Regions from separate parts of the Homo sapiens genome. Here region 1 is linked to region 2. The links come from fine-mapping of genetic effects on gene expression. A gene starts in region 2. The other region holds a variant in brackets. All regions are shown on one strand. Distances are from middle to middle.

Evidence for each region.
Region 1: its variant is fine-mapped to the expression of GSTK1 in whole blood (INTERVAL, PIP 0.99).

The regions. Positions count from the first base shown.
Region 1 is chr7:143,218,131-143,221,041 of GRCh38, forward strand. No RefSeq gene overlaps it. Among named protein-coding and RNA genes, the nearest start is that of TAS2R40, 2.5 kb to the right of the region's middle. The variant G/A (reference allele first, on the strand shown) is at 1,621.
Region 2 is chr7:143,261,914-143,264,824 of GRCh38, forward strand. It overlaps GSTK1 (glutathione S-transferase kappa 1), which reads left to right and starts at 1,528. Exons shown (of 8, transcript NM_015917.3): 1 at 1,528-1,672; 2 at 2,173-2,254; 3 at 2,635-2,763. The coding sequence starts at 1,601. The region is part of intron 2 of TMEM139-AS1 (TMEM139 antisense RNA 1); the gene reads right to left. LOC105375546 (a long non-coding RNA gene) reads left to right here. Exons shown (of 3, transcript XR_007060569.1): 3 at 1,235-1,294. RefSeq lists a silencer at 1,346-1,415 and enhancers at 1,443-1,737, 1,556-1,775.

The sequences.
Region 1 (2,911 bases), 44 kb before region 2:
CTCATACACTAGCCAAAAACTGAAGAGGGAGAGACGGGTGTCTCAGGGTCCACCTTGTCTCCTCCCAGTCCTAGCAGATGGGGTGTCAGCTGAAACTGTGCTTGGGGAAAGGCAGAAGATAATACTTAAACCAAATATGAAATTAAACTGGACTGAGTATTAATAACCAAAAGAAGACGAACATTTGGAACCTGCCCAAGACATTACAATTGGATGGGAAGCACAGAATGGGGCACTGAAACTGGAGGGGGAGAAACATGTTGTGTTTATCCCTTCTCCTTTCTCCTTCTTGTCTTCCATGAAGGACACCTATGCTCCTTGGGAGTCACTCAAAGATTTGGCATGAAGGTGGGATGTAGAGTCTATACTGTGGTCATTCCTGTCCTTACGTTGATGTCAATTCACGTGTCCACACTTTGATCTCATGCTTGTAAAGTCTCCTTGATATGGCCACTAGACCCCATGGAATCCGATAACTCCCTTAGCAGATTTCCAAACTCCTTCTGTGAACACAAGGAAGGTTGAACAGCTCTCCCAAGTGTGGACAGGCTGCAGGGGACTCAGGGGCCCTCTTGCAGCCTGTCTGCCTTTGACACCCCCATGCAGCCATGAGCAGTGGGCCAAGATGTGGGACCCCTTCAAAAGAGATCCTTACCTTCTCTAGCTCTTTCCTGCCTCCTCTTCTTTCATTCCTCTCCAACTGGGAAAGCATTTTCTAGTCTACATGGTAGTGATGGAGAGAGATGTGAAAGAAAAATGTTTCCCTGGAAACATTGGAAGAATAGGTGTATTCTTCCAATCTGTTCTATCCTATGCCTGGACCAAAGCTTTTAAACTTCGTAGCCAAGAATTTGAAACTTTTGTTCCTTGAAGACCCCCATGAGAACTTCTCTAAAGCAGGCCGGGTGCAGTAGCTCACGCCTGTAATCCCAGCACTACGGGAGGGCAAGACAGGTGGATCACATGAGGCCAGGAGTTCAAGGCCAGCCTGACCAACACGGTGAAACCCCGTCTCTACTAAAAATACAAAAATAAGCCAGGCATGGTGGCACACACCTGTAATCCCAGCTACTTGGGAGGCTGAGACATGAGAATCGCTTGAACCTGGGAGGGGGAAGTTTCAGTGAGCTGAGATCGTGCCACTGCACTGCAGCCTGGGTGACAGAGCAAGACCCTGTCTCCAAAAATAAAAATAAAAAAAGAACTTCTCTAAAGTAGAGATGATGCCTCCATTCTAGCTCTCCAAATGATAAAATATGGAATAAAAATGAATTGGCCCCACATAGCTATAAATGTGGCACTGTGAGTGCCTTGGAGTTGTCAGCCCAGACTGCCAGCTTGCATTGAGCCTCAGCAATAGTCCCACACCCCAATGGCTGATCCCCTCCCTGCTCCTCTTGCCTGAGCCTCTGGGGCTGCAGGCAGACCCTGCCCAAGATCTCCTTCTGTTCCCACCTCTTAAAATCAGAGAAAAACATGAATGAAGACCAATAGAAAACAGTACCAGAACAATGGAAGTCAACGATTGTGTGCCAGAAATTTGGGGAGATATCATTTATTACAAACTTGCATATGTTGGGACAAAATAAACCAAAAAGTGAGTTTGATGCTTTGGAATAC[G/A]TGAAAGCTGCTGACAAATACTACTGTCCTCAATTAAGAGAACTAACCAAAGTTAATGAGTCTCTTACAGGAGATGCAGAACCTGCCAACAAATCTCGTTTCCAGTTCTGACTATTATGAATAAAGCTGCTGTGAGCATTTTTGTACAAATCTCCGTGTTGACATAAGTTTTAATTTCCCTAAATAATGCTTTCTTAATTTTGAAATATATTGCTTTGCCTGGTGCTTATTTCTATACAAATAATAAATCTCTACTTCCTTATTTAATTAATTTATTTATTTTTGAGACACGGTCTGGCTCTGTCACCCAGGCTGGAGTGCAGTAGCTCCATCTCAGCTCACTGAGACCTCCGCCTCCCAGGCTCAAGGATCCTCCCACCTCAGCCTCTCGAGTAGTTGAGACCACAGGTGCATGCCACCATGCCCAGATAATTTTTTGTATTTTTGGTAGAGAAGGGGTTTCACTATGTTGCCCAGCCTGACCTCAAACCCCTGAGCTCAAGCAATCCTCCTCCTCAGCCTCCCAAAGTGCTAGGATTGCGGGCATGAGCCACTGCGCCCAGCCAACTTCCTTATTTTAAATAAAATTAATTTGGGGTGGGGAAACCCATTTTTATCATTCATCAATTTATATTATTAAAAAATATAATGGACCAAGGCCCAAAATATAATGGACCAAGGTGTGAAGGATGGTAGCTCACACCTATAGTCCCAGTATTTTCGGAGGCTGAGATGGGAGGATTGCTTGAGCCCAAGAATTCAAGATCAGCCTAGCCAACATGGCGAAACTCTGTCTCTACAAAAAATACAAAACTTAGCCAGGTGTGTTGGCATGCATCTGTAGTCCCAGCTACTCAGGTGGCTGAAGTGTGGGGATCACCTGAGCTATGGAGGTCAAGGCTGCAGTGAGCCATGATTACACCACTGCACTCCAGCCTGGGTGATAGAGTGAGACCCAGTCTCAAAAAGAAAAATAATCAAATAAAAATAACAGGGTAAGCACACTGGAAAATGATAACTGGCACTCAGCTTCTGTGTCAAGAAGACACTAGGAATTAGTATTGTCAACAAACTGAAAAGTATATACCTTGTTTAAAATGGGCAGCCATTACTCAGCTTCAGCCAGTTCACTATGAAGACCCAATACTGCCAAATCTTCTAATTTTTCAAGAGAAGATAGATTTTTTGTGCATGCATATAAGTAATCTCCTAAGTTTAAATGTTTGCCAATAGAACCCCTCAAAAAGAAAAGTTACACACTGGTGGATTAATGCTGTACAGCATTAACCAA
Region 2 (2,911 bases):
GACAAAGGTAACACAAGAAAATGTGTACTCTGAGAACTTCTTATTCTGCCCCAGTTTAGGAGATTCATGCAACTGCCAAGCAACAATAATAAGAGCTAGCAGTTATTGGAGTACCTCATTCCTCACAACTCGTCATAAGGCAGGTGTTATCATTAGATATTCCCCATGTGTATGCAGGATGAGGAAATAGGTTCAGAGAGGTCAAGTGGCTCACCCAAGGGGCACAGCTAAGTGAAAGGCACTGCAGGCATCTCAAACTACCCCCTTCCCACAAGACTCCACTGCAGAGCAGGACAGTCACCCTGACACCAGCCCAATGGGTTCATCTTGCCCATTACCCAGATGGGGCTAATTTATCAAGACAAGGGAATTGCAATAGAGAAAGAGTTTAATACACATAGAGCCAGCTAAACAGGAGACCAGAGTTTTATTATTACTCAAATTAGCCTCCCAAAATTCGGAGGCAGAGGCTAGGGGACTTTGTGGGTTTTTTTGTTTTTGTTTTTGTTTTTCTTTTGAGAGGGAGTCTTGCTATGTCACCCAGGCTGGAGTGCAGTGGCATGATCTCGGCTCACTGCAACCTCTGCCTCCCGGATTCAAGCAATTCTCCTGACTCAGCCCCCCGAGTAACTGGGATTACAGGCACATGCCACCATGCCCGGCTAATTTTTGCATTTTTAGTAGAGACAGGGTTTCACCATGTGGGCCAGAGTGGTCTTGAACTCCTGACCTCAAGTGATCCACCCACCTCAGCCTCCCAAAGTGCTGGGATTACAGGCGTGAGCCACCATGCCCGCCGGCTAGAGTTTTTTAATGATAGTTTGATGGGCAAGGGGCTAGAGAATGGGTGCTGCTAATTGGTTGGGGATGCAATCACAGGGGTGTGGAAAACCGTCCTCAGTGCACCGAGTTGCATTTGGATGCGGGCCACAGAGGAGTCACTGGTCCAGGTGGAGTCATCCTGTCATTAGAAATGGAAAAGTCTGAGAAGGTATCTTCAAAGGCCAGTCTTAGGTTCTACAAAAGTGGTTATTTACAGGAATAATTGGGGAAGTTGCAGAGCTTGTGACCTCTGGAACAATGTCTGGTAATTGTTAATGCCTACATCTTAGCAGAATTCAGGCCCCTCTCATAATCCTAAACTTGTGGACTTTTATTAGTTTTATAAAACTGGTTTAGTTTGGGGAAGGGCTATTATCATTTAAACTATAAACTAAATTTCTCCCTATATTAGCTCGTCCCATGCTCAGGAATGACCAAGGGCAGTTTGGAGGTTAAAGGCACGATGGAGTTGGTGAGTTCAGATCTGTTTCACCTTCGTAATTTTCTCACTGTTAAAATTTTTGCAAAGGCGATTGCAGCGCCCCTTGTCCACACCTGCGCGCTCCCCAAGGGGTCCCTACCCACCCCGCCCCTGGCTGGGGGCCGTAGGCTGGCCCTGCCCCGCTGCGCCGGAGGTGGACCTCTACCAGGGCAGTTTCTCTCTGAGGCTGCGCGCTAAGGCGGTGGGCGGTCCCAGGCAGGCCCAGAAGCTGGGCAGCCTCTGCCGGGTTCCGGGAAAAGGAGCTCCTGCTGCCACTGCTCTTCCGGAGCCTGCAGCATGGGGCCCCTGCCGCGCACCGTGGAGCTCTTCTATGACGTGCTGTCCCCCTACTCCTGGCTGGGCTTCGAGGTGACGCTGGGAGGGGTCGCCTCGGCAGTGTCTGGGGAGTGAGGGCGGAGGGAAGAGTGAGCGCAGGGCTCCGGGACAGAGGTCTCGTGTAACTCCTGGCGCCGCCCAAGGGGTTAAGGCAAGCAGGGAGAGCTCCGGGGCTGAAGGTCACTTTGTGCTTTTAAACGGAATAGAGTCGCTGGCTCCAACCCGAGCCTTTATATCCCGACTGCAGTTTCCCACGGTGGTGGAAAGAGGGGCGGCTCCAAACATTCAGGGAGAAATGCAGAACACGGCCACCTCTTAGCCCAACGATGGCAGTTTTGGGGAAAACTGGCCACAGGAGCGAAGATCCTGGAATAGATTTCTAGTAGTGAGGAGAGTTTTGCCAATTTCAAACCAAACAATGTAGGGTGTCCGCATAACCCCTGCTCTGCACTTAGCGCCTCCCTTCCCTTTCCCTCGGCTCTTTCACTTTTCCATCTTGCACACTGGCAATCGTTCTTGACCTCTGCCCGCAGATCCTGTGCCGGTATCAGAATATCTGGAACATCAACCTGCAGTTGCGGCCCAGCCTCATAACAGGGATCATGAAAGACAGTGGTAGGAAGGGAGGGTCGGGGCAGGGGTGATCTCAGTGGCCCAAGAGAGCCGACCCCAGCGGGTCCTTATATTGGCACTGGCAGCCAGAAAGCTGCCCTCTGCCCCGTCTCTACTAAAAATACAAAATTAGCCGGGCGTGGTAGTGCATGCCTGTATACCACAGCTACTCGGGAGGCTGAGGCGGGAGAATCGCTTGAACCCAGGAGGCGGAGGTTGCGGTGAGCTGAGATCGCACCATTGCACTCCAGCCTGGGCAACAAGAGCGAAACAACAAGAGAAAAAAAAGGAAGCTGCCCTCTGCCCAAAACCCACGTCGAGGTCCCCAAACCTGGGACCCTTAGGTCTTTTCTCACTTAGCGTGCCCAACCTTCTCCTGGCAGGAAACAAGCCTCCAGGTCTGCTTCCCCGCAAAGGACTATACATGGCAAATGACTTAAAGCTCCTGAGACACCATCTCCAGATTCCCATCCACTTCCCCAAGGATTTCTTGTCTGTGATGCTTGAAAAAGGTGAAGAGAGTGGGATGTAGACAGGGTATCCAGTGAAAAACACAGAAGTCGGAGATTGAGGGATTGATAGGATGGAGGGGCTGCGGGAGACTAAAGCAAGTGAAGCCTGCCTTGGGAAACCTCAGGATCAGCCTTGAGCGAGCTGAAG